Linked DNA regions of Homo sapiens: region 1 is linked to region 2. The links come from fine-mapping of genetic effects on gene expression. A gene starts in region 2. The other region holds a variant in brackets. All regions are shown on one strand. Distances are between the middles of the regions.

Region 1 (9,051 bases), 980 kb before region 2:
TTGTTAAAGCAAACTAAATATGGCCTGAGAAGAATTCCGTCCTTCTTTTTTTTTTTTTTTTTTTTTTTTTGACATGGAGTCTCACTCTATCACCCAGGCTGGAGGGCAGTGGCACAATCTCAGCTCACTGCAACCTCCGCCTCCCGGGTTCAAGCGATTCTCCTGCCTCAGCCTCCTGAGTAGCTGGGATTACAGGCACGCACCATCACGCCTGGCTAATTTTTTACATTTTTGGAAGCAACAGGATTTCACCATATTAGCCAGGCTGGTCTCGAACTCCTGACCTCAAGTGGTCTACCCACCTCAGCCTCCCAAAGTGCTGGGATTGCAGATGTGAGCCACCGCACCCAGCCAGAACTCCATACTTCTATATCTGAGTCCTTGTGGACAAACTGTAACCTAGCTTAACAGGCTGACAAGATTGAAAACCTAACTTAGGAGTATGTGCCTGTAACAACAGCTGAGTTTTGTCCAATCCCAGCGGCATACTTCAACCACTCATAGACCACTAAGTGTTTAAACTGTGTTCAAATAAGGCAAACGCCAAACTGTGAGCAATCAACTGTTTCTGTACCTCACTTTCGATTTCTGTACGTCACTTCCCTTTTGTTGTCTATAAATTTGTTCTGACCAGGAGGCATCCCTGGAGTCTCTCCAAATCTGCTGTGATTCTGGGAGCTGCACGATTCTCGAATCGTTCATTGCTCAATTAAATTCCTTTACATTTAATTCAGCTGAAGTTTTTCTTTTAACACTATGTAGCTTGGAAAGTCACTTTCCTTCCCAGAGCCTGTTTTCTCATCTGTAAAGTGGTCCTAATAACCTCTGTCTCAGAGGGTTCTTGAGAGGATTACATGGCATGGGGAAGCTCCTTGCACAAGATCTAACTCTGAGTATGCAATTTCTCTCCCTGGTCAGATGAACTTTTGACAAAGGGCTGCCTCCAGACATGGCTGCCAGGTTGGGCCTTGTTCTATTTCTCCATGGGAATGGCTCTGCCTTCCTGTGTCCTCAGCTCAGCAGGAGCTGCCCAGGAGGTTGGCCGGCAAACAATGCCACAGCCTCCTCCCTCCCCGCCTCCGCCCCTTACCCAAAAAAGGGTTCCAAATGCCTTCTATAGCTTCTTTCCTGGGCAGAGAGGGAGGGTGGGAGTAATGAGAATAAGAGAGGAGACTGACAGAGTTGGTCTCTGCCATGGGCTTCATCATGGATATATCACCTTCTACAGTGCACTGAATGATGGCCCCAGTATCAGGGTCTAATTCCCAGATTAGACTGTGCACTTACCTTATACAGCAAAATAGACTCTGCAGATGTGGATAAATTGAAAATGAGATAGATGATCCTCGATTATCTGGGGGCAGGGGATAAATACAGTCACAAGTGTCCTCATAAGACAGAGGTAGGGGGAGATGTAACACAGGCAGAGGAAATGGTAGTGTGGCCACAGAAGCAGAGATTGGAGAGATGTGGCCCCAAGCCAGGAACACAGGCAGTCGCCAGGTTCTGGAAGCCACGAGGAAAGGAATCTCCCTTAGAGCCTGTGGAGAGAGCATGGCTCCACCAGCACCTCCGTTTCCACCCGGTGAGACTGATTTGAGGCTTCTGGCCTCCAGAACTACAAGAGAATAAATTTCGGTTGTTTGAAGCCACCAGCTCTGTGGCCATTTGTTACAGCAGCCACAGGAAACTGATACACTCACCCTTCCTGAGTCCACATAAAAGCTCTGTGATCCCAAACTCATAAACCCCAAGGACTAAATAAACCTTCCTGTTAAATCATGAAGAAAGGGACTCACTCTGGGATTACCCACAGTTATTTGACATCATATGTCACCTTCTGAATGCCAGAGGGGCCAGTACAGGATCCAGCACAACCTTGGTGTTCTTGGAGAAGGGTCAGGAAATCCCAAAAGTACTTCACCAGCCCCAGAACCCTGTGCCTGGCACAGCTTAGCTGTGCTCATTTATATGCGGGGCAATATGTTTACTTTTGTTTGAGAAAAAAAAAGGGTCCAGATTCTTTAAAAAAGGACAAAAAAAGGTTTTGTCATGGTCCCAAAGAATGCAGTTTTCGGAAATGAAACAGCAGCAGAATGAATTGCAAAGGCTACTGGGCTAGTCTAATGTCTTCCTATATAGGCCAAGAAACCAATGCCCAGAGAGGGGAAGGAAGGGACTTACCCAAGGACACACAGCCAGTCAGCCAAGATGAAGCTGTAACTTGAAACTTCCAGCTCCTCCCACCCTGACACACACACACACACACACACACACTCACTCACTTGGATTCCGAGTACTCCTCAGTTTGCTAACTTTCATCCTCAAGAAGTTTGTTGCATTAGTTTCCAAGGGCTGCTGCAACAAATTACCACAAACTGGGTGGCTTAGAACAACATCAATGTATTGTCCCGTATCTCTGGAGGCCCAAAGTCCAAAATTAAGGTGTCAGCTAGCCATGGTCTCTCCAGGGGAGAAATCCTTCCTTGCCTCTTCTAATTGCTGGTGGTTCCTGGCAATCCCCGCCATTCTGGGACTTATGAGTGCCTTCACATGGCCTTCCCCTCTGCATGTCTCTCTGGGTCTCTGTCTCCTCGTCTTATAAGGACACCCATCATTGGATTAGGGCCCACTAGCATGACCTCATCTTTACTTGATTACATCTGCAAAGACCCTGTATTGCATTCACAGGTTCTGGGTGGACAAGTGTTAGGGAGGGATGCTATTCAACCCAGTATACATCTATTTATGCTCTTTATCTAGACAGATGAGGATCAGGGGTTTGAAAGCCCAGCAATAGCCTAATAATTAAACATCTGAAGGCTTTTCTCTGTGCCCCTCTCTGTCCTCTGTATGGTAGTAACCTATGGCCAGTTCTTTGGCCCTATCTAGCCTGTGCATTTTTTGCAGGCAAACACTGTGTCTCCAGCCCCCTAACATAGCCCAGACACAAAGGAGGAACTTGGAAGCATTTGCTGAACAAATGAATGAAATGAGACATTTGGAAGCACAGCCCAAAGAATGTAATTTCCAGAAGTGAAACAGCAGCTAAATGAATTGTAGCAATGTTGGCGCTCACTTCTCATACTCTTGTAGCCTCCTGCTTTCACAGTGGGCAACTGACTTGCTGGGAGTCCAGCAAATTTCCGGGGAATCTCCCTGTGGGAGTCAGGAACAAAGCTGGCATTTGGCAACTGGCCAGCAGGGGGCAGGATGGTCTCAGGGACAGAGCCCCAGAGGCTGGAGCTTGGCTCCACTTACCCAGCAAGCAAACCCTCCCAGAATCAGAGCGTTTCTGATTGCAAGGACTCTGCAACCTACTCTGACTCCTCTTTGTTCTTCTTTTATTTTCCCTTTTTTTTCTCATTAGGTCAGTACCAATGAGTCTTCTTTGAACAGATAAAGAAAGTGAGGCCCAGACAGGGGAAGGGACTCTCCCAAGCTCAGAGAGAGTTGGGATCCATAACTCCAGACCCCATTCCCTGGGCCAATTCTAGTACTGCCTGCAGGCTTCGGTCTCCCTGGGACCAACTCTAAACAAACAAAAAATAAAAGAGCTTATCAATGAAACTTGGGTCTTTTTAAAGGGGCTGCCCCCTGACTCAACTAAATATACACAATGTATATGCTCCGACCTGAGGATGCCACTTCCAGAAATGTAGCTTACATGCACACAAGGATGTTCATTGTGGCGGTGTTGATAGTAGAGAAAAACTGGAAGCAACATAAAAATTGGAAACAACCACTACAGGACTGCTTTAATAAATGATGACACAGCCAGGCCCAGTGGCTCATGCCTGCAATCTCAACACTTTGGGAGGCCAAGGCAGGTGGATCACTTGAGGTTAGGAGTTCAAGACTAGCCTGGCCAACCTGGTGAAACCTCATCTCTACTAAAAATACAAAAATTAGCCGGGCGTGGTGGCGGCGACCTGTAATCCCAGCTACTCAGGAGTCTAAGGCTGGAGAATCGCTTGAACCCAGGAGGCAGAGGTTGCAGTGAGCCAAGGTCACACCATTGCACTTCAGCCAGGGCAACAGAGTGAGACTCTGTCTCAATAAATAAATA[A/T]ATAATGACATATCTGTTTTGTGGAATACTGTATAATCATTAAAAATAAATTTTTAGAAGAATATGTATAAAGAAAAAAATTATGCTAGAAAACTGAGGAAATAATACATATTGTACATTCCTAATATTTTAAAATTCCTTGTGCATATAAAATATAATTTGTGGTTCCAGAGGTACTCACTATTTAGTACTAATTTTCTATATATGTATTTTTTAAAATTAGACCTTACAATATTAAAATAAATATATTAATTTTAAATTAAATATATACATAGTTTTATATACACACACACGCACACACATGCACATGCACGCACACACGCACACACACACGCTTAGACCTTAGACCTGGGTAAGTGTGGTCCATGCCTTAGATCCCACAATTCAAAGTGTTCGGCATTTCATAAACACACATAGGCAAATAGTTATTATGAAGACAGTCACTTCTGTTACTTGCGACCTGGTGTTCAGTGCTGCATAGCGTAACCCTAAACATTAACTTGGGACTAACATCATCAAGACCCAGGAGATGTGTCTCCAGGTCTTGTCCTCTGTCTTTGAGACAAAAGGGACTGAATCCCAATGCCACAACACCACGTGGGCTGTGCTGTGGCTGACATCAGAGATGGACGACGCTTCAGAGTACAGGGAAAATTTGAGCAGTGGACGTGCTTAAGCATGTAAGAGAATAGACAAATTAATTTGTCAAACACTTCCTCTCAGGTAGCGTGGAATGCAACATTTTCTTACATAACAAAGTATAGTCTCCCAGCAGTGCCAAGTGTCCATTTCCTTGCTTTTCTTCATGTTCTAATTCATGGTTCCAGAGGAACCTAACAGCTGAAGACTATTCTGCAATAGCAAACGATTCATTGCACTCTTAAATTTCCCTGCGTGTAGGTCCAGACATAATATGTATGAAGTATATCAGTTCTTTACATTGACAACTATAGACCCTGGATCCTGGCCATTCAAATAGCATAGAGTTTTGCTATTTTTAATACCTAATGGAATGTAATCAAACGTTTTTAAAAAATTTTAATGTCTGCTTTACAGAAATAATTTTCATCTAAATTTTTAAGATTTACTCATTGTAATTTGAGTTTTGCCTTTTGGTCTTGACAGATAATTTTGAATGTTTCAGAAGAAAATCTTTCTTAGAAAAAATGATTTAAATATTAAATATTTAAACATATGGTATGTGGAACTCCAATTGTACCCTTGCCCTGGGCCCTTCAAATGTAAGATCTAGGCCTGTGTTTAGAACACAGATTCTAATAGAAAATACACCAGAATGTCAAAGGAAGTTGACTCTAGATTATTGGATTGCTGTGATTTTTATTTTATTCTTTTGGATTTTTGTCTATGTTTCTAGATTTTCTAGTATTTATCTAGTCATAAAAAAATGATAAATATATATTTTCAAGTGTCGCATCAGCCCCCAGCCTCCTCCCGACGTGAAATGACTTTCTACCCTCAACCAGGGTCCTGGGACAGGTATCTAATTCTGCCCTCATCCCCATGACCACTCCAGACTTTCAGCAGGAGGGACCCCAGGGGTAGCTCCTCCCTTGGCCCACACTGAGCACTTCCCCCCTTAGCTGGCACCACAAGGCTTCAAGGCTTCACATAATGAGGTACAGAAAGCGGGCCCTCGATGCTCTGTGGATCACGCTCTAAACAAACAGTATTCTCAGCCTTGGGTTTCCCACCCTCCTGCCCCACCCCCGCGAGCATTTAACTTAGTGCTGCTTTCAGGACTAGGTAGAAACTGGCCGCCCTCCCTGGAGTCTGTGCTGACCTCACATCGTCCACAACAGGGTAGAAATGCCCCACCAGCTGACCTTTCAGAAGCCTCCTCTGGAGGCTAATCGGGCACACTGGGTGGGGGAAGGTGCCGTCATGGTTCCACGGACTGGTTCTGAGGCCTAGCAAATGGAATTTTCCCACATAGGGAACCCACAATGAAGGGGAAAACTGCATGTGTCCCTTTGTGAAAAACTAGTAGGAACAAAGATGGAGAAGGCAGGACGTTCTCCCTGGCTCCCATTCAGGCCCAGCAGTGCTCTGCAAGGAGTGTAACCTGACACCTGGAGCTTCCCCTGCCTATCCCACCCCAAGCACCACTCCCACCCATCCCAGTCTGGCAGTGAGTGGCACTCACCAAGGGAGAGTTGCATTCCCTTGGCAGACCATATATCCAGAAGGAAGCCCTTCCTGCAATTGGGAGAGGGGGACTTGGCCACCATGGGGGACCCAACAGAGTCCCTGAAGGTTGAAGCCAGGAAGGCCTCAGAGCTAGAATCAATCCCCCTGTTCACACCAGAGACACAGAAAGCACAACTGACTGGCCCCAGGTCCCAGAGCAATCATGTGACCATGTAAACCAAGAATTTTCTCTTCTGGCACCCCATACAGCCTGGAACTCTCCCTCACATCTGACATTTTAAATTGAACATAGGATACCTGCCACAGTCTTCAAGGAGACATACTTAGACCTCAGGAGTTTTTGGAAAAGTGTCTCCACCCAGAAGCCTGCACTGAGCTGCAAATTGAGCAGTGGCAGAGGCTTTAATGGCCTTATTCACCACCATAGCCCAGAGGTTCCCAACGTGGTACCTGGTTCATCGATTCTAAGGTGGGTATTTTTTTTCACATGTTAGTATCTCTGAAATTGAGATATAACTTGCAATCCATCATAAGTCAAAGTGTAATGGGCAGCATTCTTTCCTTCATAGTAGGCCAATCATTGTTCAGTATACAATTAATTGATGGCATCTTACATTCAATGAAATATGAGAAAATAGGGTCATAGTGGCCAAAACATATTTGTCAAATAAATAAACATACCAAGCCCTATGCTAAGGTTCTACATGCATTATCCTTTTTACCCCTCCCCCAAATCCTCCTATGAAGGAAATATTATTCCCATTTTATATATCAGAAACTAAAACCAAGAGCAATTAAAACCCTTGCCCCAGATCACACAGTAACGGTAGAGCCAGAATCAACATCCAGCTCTAGGGGTCATAGTTTCTGCTGTAACCACTGAGAAATCGAGCCTTCCAATAGAATGCAATTCCCTTGTTGCCAAGTAAAGTATGGTGACCAACCATCTCGGTTTGCCCTGGTCTGAGGGGTTCCTGGGATATGGGACTTTCAGTGCTAAAACTAGGATAAACCAGGGTAATTGATCACCTGATCACCAAGATCAAGAGTCCCTCACTCCTCCTGCCCATCTCTGCCTGCTCCCTCCGCATGGCCTCCACCTCTTCCAGGACCTGCACCTGTGAACAGGCCTCCACCCCAGCTCTTGGGCCCCTAGGCCTGGCAGGAATTCCCAGGGCTTGGGTCCCTCTCTGAATGAACGGCCCCTCCACTCTTCTGTGCCAAGGAAGCTGCCAATGTCCCTCTTTCTCCAAATGTCTCTCACCAGTGGGTGCCAGATCTAGATGTTCATTGGACCTGCTAGGCTCTTCCCACAGCTGATGGAACATCTGGCCAGGTTTTCCCACATCTTCATTGAAATGATGGACCAAGCTATGGCTCCTTAATTCCCATTTCACACTGCTACATGGATTTCAAAGTTGCTCAATGTTCTCAGGTTCAGGAAGGCTGCTAATATTAGCACTTTTGGACCCAGATAGCAAGAATCCTTTCCTGAAAGAAACTTCTCAGCTCCTCCATCTGAGACTGCAGGAATCCAGACAAGGCCCAGGTTTGTTCAGAAGGCCAAGTTGCTGTTGGGCAGTGCTTCTCAGTGGAGTCCCCAACCCAGGGCTCTTATTACAATGCAGATTCCTGGGCCCTGGCCCAACTTGATAAACCAATCTCCAGGGATGGAGCTCAGATGTCTGCAGCTGCAGGTGGTTCTGATACATGCCGAAAGTTATGAACCACAACTGAGGATAGTTTCAGACCATCGCATGGCCCCTGTCTCATGCTTCACCTCACTCCAGACCCTCCTGCAGCTGGACCCATTCAGGGACATCCAGAATCCTAGTGCCCCCACCACTGGGACCCTCGACCTCAGCCCCTTCCTCTAGAGCCTGTCACTGCTGACCCACAGTTGGTCAGGAGGTATCCAATAGCTCCATTCCTATTCAGGGGGATGGCTATGGCCCCTAGGAAGAGCCTGCAGTCCTGCTAAAGTACTCACAGGGGCAATTCCTGGAGCAGAGCCATACTTAACTCCATGCAGGCAGCTTACACACCCCTCCCGAATTCCCCACCTCTCTACCACGCCTCACCTGCCTTGCCTACTGTACTCTCCCCTCTCCTCACCTGAAACACTCCCAGGGCTCCCTGAATTCAGGTCTTTGGGGACTCCCTAGCAGTACCTGTCCATTTTACATGAGCAGTTAATAGATGGATATATGCCACTCCACCCTGACCACAACTCCGGAAATACAGAGGTGGGGGCTGGATTTTGCCCTCGGCTATATCCCCAGTGCTTAGTACAGAGCTTGGCACATCGTAGGAAGCTGAAAAATAATTGTGTAAATGCACATATAAATAAATCCCCACATGATCCTACAAAGCAAGAACTATTGTTATCCCAATTTTTACAGCTGAGGAACCGAGGCATAGGTTAAGGAGTTTACTCACACTGCGTAGCTGCTAATCGGTGGGACACAACTGGAACCCACCTGGGGTCCCAGACCTGCAAACTCTTATCCACCACACCAGTGCACCCCTGGGAGAGTCCAGGAGCAGGCAGACCTGGGTCTAGTTTGGTAGCTTGTTTGCCTTCTGTCCTGAGTCTGGGCAACATCACCACTTATAAAATCTCACTTCTGTTCTTGCTTCCATTTCCAGGCTTCCATTTCCGCTTCTCTTTCTTTCTTCTCTCCCCTCTCTCCTTTCTCAGATGTCCCCTGCCCACTGGGTCCACAACCTGATAGAGTCACAAAGGCCCAGTGAGCCCTTCATAGGGAACTTTTCAGAATCAAGATAGAGTCATGCTGGAAACAGAAAAATCC
Region 2 (8,868 bases):
CTTCCTCCAGCTGTGAAACAGGAAAGACAAACTAAATACGGGGATAGTGCGTACTTACTGTCTCCACCCCAGACCAGAAGAGCCTCTGCCTCTCATCAGCACTCCTACACCTACTAACATTTCCCGTTCTTCCCTAGCCCCCTGTCACTATGAGGGGAAATATTTTACCCTGGGTGAGTCTTGGCTCCGCAAGGACTGTTTCCATTGCACCTGTCTGCATCCTGTTGGCGTGGGCTGCTGTGACACGTGAGTGACCAAAGATGGCCAGAGAGAATGACTCTGATATGAGTGACTGAGGGATGACCAGGGAGTGACTAGATTGCTGTGATGTAAGAATGAACAGAAGAGCAATACAAGATGGGCCAAACCTGAAGGGACCAACACTAGTGTGAAAGATAAGGCTTCAGGCTATAAATCAGGGGAGGTTGGGGTGGACCTGGAGAGAAAATACTCCTGTTATAAAACAAAAAGGCCCACATATGGTAGGTGACAGCTTAGTTAGGAGGACCAAGGGGCCACTGAAAGGGGCTCTGTGGGGGGAAAACTGTGAGAGAGGGAACATGTGGGCAGGGATAAAGGCAGCCTTTCACTGTGCTGACTCCTTCCCCTATCCTTGGTTCCCCAGGTCCCAGCATCCCATCGACTTCCCGGCTGGGTGTGAGGTACGTCAGGAGGCAGGAACCTGCCAGTTCTCCTTGGTGCAAAAATCTGACCCTCGGCTGCCCTGCAAAGGGGGAGGGCCTGACCCAGAATGGGGCTCAGCCAACACCCCTGTTCCTGGGGCTCCTGCTCCCCACTCCAGCTAAACTCAACTGATCATCCATCTGCTGACTGCTCACTGCTGCTGCCACTTCCAGGGAAACCACTAGCAGCTGCCAATGTATTCTGAACAAATAAATTAATGCTATAGCTGAAAGCCCGACTCTCACTGTCCACGACATTGGACCCCAGGTGGAAAAAGTGGGTCCCATTAGAGTCCAGGTGCTGAGTTCTCAGTATCCGGAAGGAACTAGCACCAGGGTGGGCCAGTTTCAGATGGTTATGGTGCTGGTGCTGGGGCCTGGGGCAGCATATGAGGCCAGGGTGGGGCTAGTAGGCAGCACCTTGATGGGCAGGTCCCAGCTGAAGGTGTCTACAGGTACTTGCTCAGGTCCTGTCCAGGTGGTAGGTTCGGGCTGTTCCACAGGGGGTAGGAGTACCAATCCTGGTTCTCGGGACGTTACAAATTCAAAATGCAATCTCCACTTCAAGGACACTATGGAAGAAAAAGATTAAGGTAGAAGCATCAGAAGCTAGCAGGAGTAAAAGCCAATGACAGGATATAGTTAGTGAATGAGAAGAAAACAATCTGTGTTCAGGAAGACAGGGAAAAGTCACAGGGCAGGGAGCTGTGATTAAGGGTTTTTCTGAAGCAATGGGTACTACCACAGATGTGAGCTGAAGATAGCAGTATTAAGTACCTAATAACCTAAGAGTGAGGCAGTCAAGTCTAGGTAGCATGAAGTAATCAAAAATCAGTGTATCACAGGGTCCTAGTAGGTAGGTGTGGGGAAGGAGTTCTATCAAGCTGTTAGGAGTTTAGGGGTCAGTGCATCTAAGAAACAGGAAGAGGTTGAAGGTCTGAGAAACTGTTCCGGGTCAGAGGCTAGACGTGGGTATGTCTGGGAGTGTGTATAAGGAATCAGGATCCATTACACCCTCCCTTAGCACAGCATTTTACTGTCCCCCTCTCCCTTCTCCAGTAACAGTGAGGGTCTCACCAATGGCTGTACAGAAGCCTGGGGTGGAGCTGAGAGGGATTGGGAGGGAGAAGCTGGTTCTAGTTGTATGTAGGCAGGATTCCTGGTGCCGGGCGTGAGTCACATGTGACACAGAGGGGACACCCCCTGCCCCACGTCGCCGCTGGTACTCAGGCTGTACACGCTCCTCGGTCTGTAAGCTGACTGAAAACTGGGAGCAAGAGACAGGTGTGTGCTAACAGGAAGTGCTGTCTGTAGGTGAGAGGACAGCCCAACCTCAAGCTGTTTTACAAAGGGACCCTGGATGACCCCACTATCCCCTTCTACATGCCACCCCTCTTTATACAGGCCTTCCACCCTAGCCCTTCAACCCCAGCACCCCAGCAGGTAAGAAGCTCTGCTCCCTTCTTACCTGCAAACAAGCTACGGTTCCTTCCCCTAAGTTTAAGGTCCCCACCACGTCCTCGCCAAGTCTGTACACAGATTTGAAGATGCCAAACGTCCCAACTTTCCCTCGGCCATCACTGATATTGTATAGATCTGGGGAGAATAGGACACTATAAGCCTGGAGTCTACATACTGGATAACGTCTAGGACTGGGCACCACAGGCCAAAAGATGGGGCTTTTCTTTAAAATTGGAGGTGTCAGGTATCAGTGGATCCACAGAAGTGTGTGGTGGTTAGGAGACTGTCTCTGAGATGGGAAAACAATGAGGGGAAGGATGGGGTAGGACAATTCTGAAAGAATTCTCACGGAGGCTGCGGCAGGATGTGGCAGCCATTAGGCGTTCCCCAGCCAGCTCAGCTAGCCATGAATCTTTCTTCCCACCTTCATCCTCCTCCAAGAATGGACTGGATGGGGCTACAGCCTCATCCTGGGGAAACCGGACATCCTGAAGGCCTAGAGAAAGAATGAGTGGAGAGGTAATGCTGAGAGGGAACGGAGATGAGAGTAGAGGTTAGGGTTTTAGATTCTAACATGAGATGGCTAAAGGTAAGGGGTGCCAGGGCTGAGGTTTACATCTCTATCTCCAGAACCCTCCCTCCCTTCCCAACTCCCTAGCACTGTCACTGAGACCAGGAAGTTTCCCTGCAGTCCCTCTTGCAAGCCCTCTAAGACAATTTCTGCTTTGGCATCGCCCTTCCCCAGCCCTTCCCTCCAGGAGCCCTTGCTTACCAGTCAGCACAAGAACCCTCAGAGGGACTCTGAGTAAAGTGATAGGGGAGTTGACACGCTGGCAGCCAATGGTCAGTTTGTAGACGTACTTGACTGACTGACCCCGAAAGGAGGGTGGTCCCTCTATGGGCAGCACTTCACTGTAGGAGTCTGGTTGGGAAGTAGTTGTCAGGACAGCCAGAGGCACCAGAGGAGTCCTCCCTCCAGGAGACTTAGAAGGCAATTCAGGGATGGGGACAATCACTCACATGATTTGGACTCTCCAGGATCAAGCCTCAGGTCACAGAATAGAATTTTCGGTGGAGTAGAAAGGATACACTGGCCCCTCTCACCTGAAAAAGGTAAAAATGACTAATTTAATGACCCATTGTCCAGTACTGAACAAGACTAGCACGGCAAGTGGAGATAGTGAAAGGCTGCCAGGCCCTCCGTCCCTGCTGTGAAATGGGAATAGTCTTCTACCCCTAAAGCAATAGTCATGCTCCCCAACATCCCCAGCATGACAGGGACTATAAGAACAAGAACAATTAACAACTTCACCCATGGGTGACAATGCCTCCACACACACCCTCCGCACCCCCCCTCTCCCAGGCAAATGCCCCTCTCTAACCTCGGTGTGGCAGAAAGACAGTCTGGCTGTCGGGCTGGACATCTGGCTGACTAGAGTCAGGAGGAGGCAGTGCTACTCGACTCTCACTGGCATGGAACTGGCAGTGGATTTGGGCACTGGCCCAGGCCAGGGCCTCACTGTGGGAAAAGGAAAAGGAGGCATCAGAGGTAGTTCCTGACCTCACAAATGCTTTCCCAAGCTCCCTATCACACCATCTTAACCAACAAGGTTAGATGGCTGTCCTAGTGATCAGGAAATCCACAATCCCAAAGAGAAACCATTAAATAAAGAGTAGCAGACTGTGCGTAAAAAGGGGAACGGGGGAGGGGAAGGAAAGCGTACAGCTATGTCATCCACATCTTCTGTTAAAGAGCCCTCTCCTACAATGACAGCACAGTGAGCAAGAGGAGGTGGTGTCGCTACAGGACAACCTGAGCTCTGCCTCAGCCCCAGAGATAATCTGGCTTCTTCCCAGAAGGGCCACCACCTTCAGTGCCAGCATCCCCACCTGGATGCAGAAGTGGCCGTGGGCGGAAGGGGGTTGGTGACGGTCACTACACACTCCAGCGCCTCCCCAGCCAAAAATACAGGACCCCGGCTGAGCTCTGCTACCACTTCAATCATGGCAGCTCCGGAATCAGATCTAGAAGGAAACAAGGCGGGGCGGAGGTCAGCACCTTGACAGGGAGGGGCGTTGCGGTGAGCACCTAGGGCTGAGGGCTGAGGACAGGGGTGGTCAGCACCGTGGTGCCCGAGGGAGCTCCTGGATATAGGAGGGGTAGGCGGGTGGGAGGGAGGCGACTGAAGACTCAGTACTGCCCAGGGGGAGGACATCGCTCTGGGCCCTAGACCCCAGCCCCTGTGCGACGGGTTCTTCTCCCTGGGCACCCCCGCGGAGTTCCCAAACTGGCCTCCGCTCCCCCTTTCCTCAAAGTTCCACGTCCCAGCCCAAGATCACCGCCGCTAGTCACCTCGCATAGTCGACACTAGGGATCGGCACCCCTAGGCCTCATCTGCCCGCCCCTCAGGGACCTGGCTAGGTACGCGGCGGCGGCGGCGGCGGCGGCGTCCGCTGGGCGGTAGAGGCGGGACTTCCCTTCGGTCCCCCACCCTCCGCGGAGTCCCTTCCGGCCGGAAGCGCCCGGCAGGCCAGACCGGAAAGGGCTCGGGTCATCCCGGCGCCCAGGGTCACCTTCCCACGGGCTGGCACCTGGGCGCGGGCGCTGCCCCGGAGCCGGCCGGCGGGACCTGGCGCCCAATCCTGGGGGACCCGGTGCCGTGGCCCAGGGGCCGGGCCGAGGTCCCGGGGGCGGTGCCTTGCGGGCCCGTCCCGGGGCGGTGCCTGGTGGGCTGGCCCCGCGGCTCCTCCCCTCTCTGCGGGCCCAGTCGCCCTTTGGCCGGGCGAGCTAATCGTCGGCTCAATGACGACGAGGCCCGACCCTTCCCGTCCAGGACCTACAGAGACAACCGAAGGAGAGCCCAAGGCGGCTTCTTTGCTGTCGCCGCCCCCACTGAAGCAAGAGCTCCCCGGCTCCACTGAAACACCAGCTCATTTAAGCTTTCCCCAACGCCCGGCCCTCCGGGACGATACCTAACAACGACCGGCGCCCGCATCTGGAATAGGCTGGCGAGATACTTAGTATCCGAGGGCTCGGGACTTGGCGCCATCGAGGTCATGGGGACCCAGGATCCAGGGAACATGGGAACCGGCGTCCCAGCCTCGGAGCAGATAAGCTGTGCCAAAGAGGATCCACAAGTTTATTGCCCTGAAGAGACTGGCGGCACCAAGGATGTGCAGGTTACAGACTGTAAGAGTCCCGAAGACAGCCGACCCCCAAAAGAGACGGACTGCTGCAATCCGGAGGACTCTGGGCAGCTGATGGTTTCCTATGAGGGTAAAGCTATGGGCTACCAGGTGCCTCCCTTTGGCTGGCGCATCTGTCTGGCTCATGAGTTTACAGAGAAGAGGAAACCCTTTCAAGCTAACAACGTCTCCCTAAGCAACATGATAAAGCATATAGGCATGGGCTTGAGGTGAGTAGACCCCATTGCCTAGAATGCCTTTGGCTTCACTTTGTTCCAGCTCAAAACTTCTAGCAGAGGTGGGAAAGGGCAAGAAAGCAGTTGGGCTTCTTGTCTGAGTGAAGCGGTCCCTATCCCTGGCATATTTTAGGCCTGTGGTTTTGGACCGTGAGACCAGGTCACATCTCTTTGCAACACCCTTCCCTCCCAGTGTTTTGTCTTTTCAGAAGGAAAGGGTAGGAACATTTGGTCATGCAATCAGCCTTTCCCATTCAGGCTCTTCTCACATACTGGTTTCCAATGACTTCCCTTTGGGATTAGCTATACTTTGTGGCAAGGTAGGAAAGGATAATCTGGCTGCTGTGATACTAACACAATGTTGTTTTATTTGGGGGTGGGGGGGTCTCAACCCCTTATTTCCCACAAGCAGCTGGGGCATTCTCTGTACCTCATTAGACACACTGTTAGAGTCCCAACACTACTGCTTCTTTCTTCAAGCTTTAGCTCCAGGGAGTAGGTAAGAAGAGCCTCCCTGCCCTCACCTCTGAAGTGATGAGAAGGTGCTGTCATTCTGTTCTGGGATAGAGAGCTCTTGATATTAAGTCATTTATCAGAGAGGCACTGCCATAGATGTAGAACCCATCTAGATCCCCACTGAGTTCAAAGACTAGTGATGAGGAGCCAGACCCATTAACAGGAACAGGTGGATGTGAGGACAGAAAGCATCACCCTGAGGTCATCCTGACTCAGTCTACACAATACACACAGAACTGTGGAGGGAGGCATAAAGCTTGGGAAACCCTGCCCTTACAGTTTCTAGAGTAGGAGACCCTTCATTTCCCCAGTCAGTGCTGTGGGGCTGTGATGGGGAGATCAGTTATCTAACCCTAGCCCTGGGGAGTGGGAAGGGCCTGATGCTGCCTGCACATCTGGCTTTGTTGGTGCCTGTGGGTAGCCTGTAGCAGAGAAGAATCATCCCTCCAGGCTGCTTCTGGAATCAATTCAGTCCAAGTTTGACCCCAAAAGTTTTTGCATCAAAATAGGATCTAGTGTACATAGAGAAGTACACTGAGTTGCATGTGGTAGGAACAATGAGATCAAGAAAAGATGGGCATCCTAGCCTCTTAGCCCTTAAATATGAACTGAGTCATAGAGGCCTGAAGCTGTGCTCAACCCCCTGGACCCTGGCTCCCCATTCCAGGATAGAGTGGGGGGTACTGATACAAGGCTTTTGGAATAGGATGAGTTCCTATGAGGAGAAAGCACAGGTGAGACAAGAATTCTAAGTGATAACTCTTGAGTTGAGGTTGAAATTGTGGAGAAGGCCAAATAGGTCAGGAATGGCCAGCTACCATATTAAGGGAGTAAGAGAGCTCCTAAGATGGAGCTGAACTGTGGGCACTCTGACCAGGAGCTCTAGCAAGACAGAATTCTCTGGGTCTTACCTTCGTAAGAACTCAATTTCAATTGTTCTCCCTTCCAGCCAGAGTCCACTCATTCAATAAATATTTATTGAGTGCTTGTTCCATGCCAGATAGTCCTTTGTTCTGTCTGTCCTCATAGATTGCAGTTACTCTCCCTGGTTGCCCTAATCCTCGGCCACACCCTCCCTCTACCAGTCCTTTCTGGTCTCTAGTTTCAAAGTCCGGTTTTCTCTAAGCTGGCAGAGAGGATTCTCTGCCTTCCTGTCATCCCATCCTTTGTCTTCCCTCTTCTTTCCACCCCTAGAATGTGCTGTCCCTTTTTATTTTATTATTATTTTTTTTTTGAGACAGTCTTGCTCTTGTCACCCAGGCTGGAGTACAATGGTGCAATCTCAGCTCAGTGCAACCTCCGTCTCCTGGGTTCAAGCGATTCTCCTGCCTCAGCCTCCTGAGTAGCTGGGATTGCAGGTGCCTGCCACCACAGCTGGCTAATGTTTTTGTATTTTTAGTAGAGACGGGGTTTCACCACATTGGCCAGGCTGGTCTTGAACTCCTGACCTCACGTGATCCGCCCACCTCGGCCTCTCAAAGTGCTGGGATTACAGGTGTGAGCCACCGTGCCTGGCCGCTGTCCCTATTCATTAATCACATTTCTTCTCCTCTGCTCCAGTCTGTTATCTCTCTTGTGCCCCATCATTTGTATGTTCATTCATCTGTAAAATTGGCAAATATGCATTGACTGCAGACCATATGTCCTACCCTGTGCTTGGACCTGAGGGTAATATTCAGCTAGTCTTTGTCATTGTCCCTTTCCCCAAGGAACTTAAAAGTATGTCAGCCTCACATGAGGAACATTGAAATAACAAGGCAATGTCTGATTAGGAATTGAGATAACAGTTTGTATATATGAGTAATAATCATACCTGTACTTTATGGCTTTCTTATCTATTATGTCATTTGATCTTTCAACCATTTCATTAGATAGCTAGAGCAGGTGGTATCCCCATTTTGTAGATGAGGAAACTGGGACTTAGGGGTTACTTACCCAATTATTTGGTTAGAAGTGGTGTGACTGAACAGTAGGCATAATGTGGCAGTAGGCAGGAGAGTGGAAATGGGAAAGAGTCTGGCAGGGCAGGGGCTACTTAGTGAGGACCCATCTGGAATGAGAATTTGTAGGAAATAAGATTAGAAGATAGGCTGGGACAGATGTCAGAGCCTTGAAAACAGAATCGTTTGCCTATTGAAAACAGCCTCAATCATTTGCCTCTTGGATATAGGGCTGTACCAAGCCCAGGAAAATGTTGGGATTTTTTGAAGGCTTTACCAAGAGCAAAATCAGAAAGCTTCACAGTTTAAATGTTGAATTTAAAAAAAAAAAAAAAAAAGGCTTGAGAGGAAATGTCCAGAAATAAATATAAACACTGATTGTCTATGGGTGAGATTATTTTTTTCCCCCTTTCACCTTTCATAATTAGAAAGAAAAATGATCATTTTAAAAAGAAGAAAGGCCAGAAGCGGTAGCTCACGCCTCTAATCCCAGCACTTTGGGAGGCCGAGGCGGGCGGATCACCTGAGGTCAGGAGTTCAAGACCAGCCTGGCTAACATGGTGAAACCCCATCTCTACTAAAAACACAAAAAAATGTGCCAGGCATGGTGGCGGGCACCTGTAATCCCAGCTACTTGGGAGGCTGAGGCAGAAGAATTTCTTGAACTTGGGAGGCGGAGTTTGCAGTGAGCCAAGACCGAGCCACTGCACTCCAGCCTGGACAACAAGGAACGAAACTCTGTCTCAAAAAAAAAATAATAAATAATAAAAATAAAGATAAGAAAGTTATTCCCAGCAGCCTATGCCTGTTTTGGAGGTAGGGGATTGGGGGCGGAGGCTGTAGGCC

The links. PIP is the estimated chance that this variant, and not a neighbour inherited with it, causes the effect.
Region 1: its variant is fine-mapped to the expression of RGP1 in naive CD8 T cells (Schmiedel 2018, PIP 0.95).

What each region holds. Positions count from the first base shown.
Region 1 is chr9:36,723,254-36,732,304 of GRCh38, reverse strand. No RefSeq gene overlaps it. Among named protein-coding and RNA genes, the nearest start is that of MIR4475, 96 kb to the left of the region's middle. RefSeq lists an enhancer at 5,870-6,371. The variant A/T (reference allele first, on the strand shown) is at 4,070.
Region 2 is chr9:35,745,038-35,753,905 of GRCh38, reverse strand. RGP1 (RGP1 partner of RAB6A GEF complex) reads right to left here and starts at 4,619. Exons shown (of 9, transcript NM_001080496.3): 1 at 4,498-4,619; 2 at 4,035-4,169; 3 at 3,527-3,663; 4 at 3,165-3,248; 5 at 2,917-3,066; 6 at 2,494-2,640; 7 at 2,152-2,279; 8 at 1,761-1,950; 9 at 1-1,255. The coding sequence starts at 4,150. The coding sequence ends at 1,032. It overlaps GBA2 (glucosylceramidase beta 2), which reads left to right and starts at 4,678. Exons shown (of 17, transcript NM_020944.3): 1 at 4,678-5,560. The coding sequence starts at 5,202. MSMP (microseminoprotein, prostate associated) reads left to right here. Exons shown (of 3, transcript NM_001044264.3): 2 at 138-246; 3 at 626-916. The coding sequence ends at 806. RefSeq lists an enhancer at 1-1,016 and silencers at 4,330-4,379, 4,410-4,459, 4,580-4,979.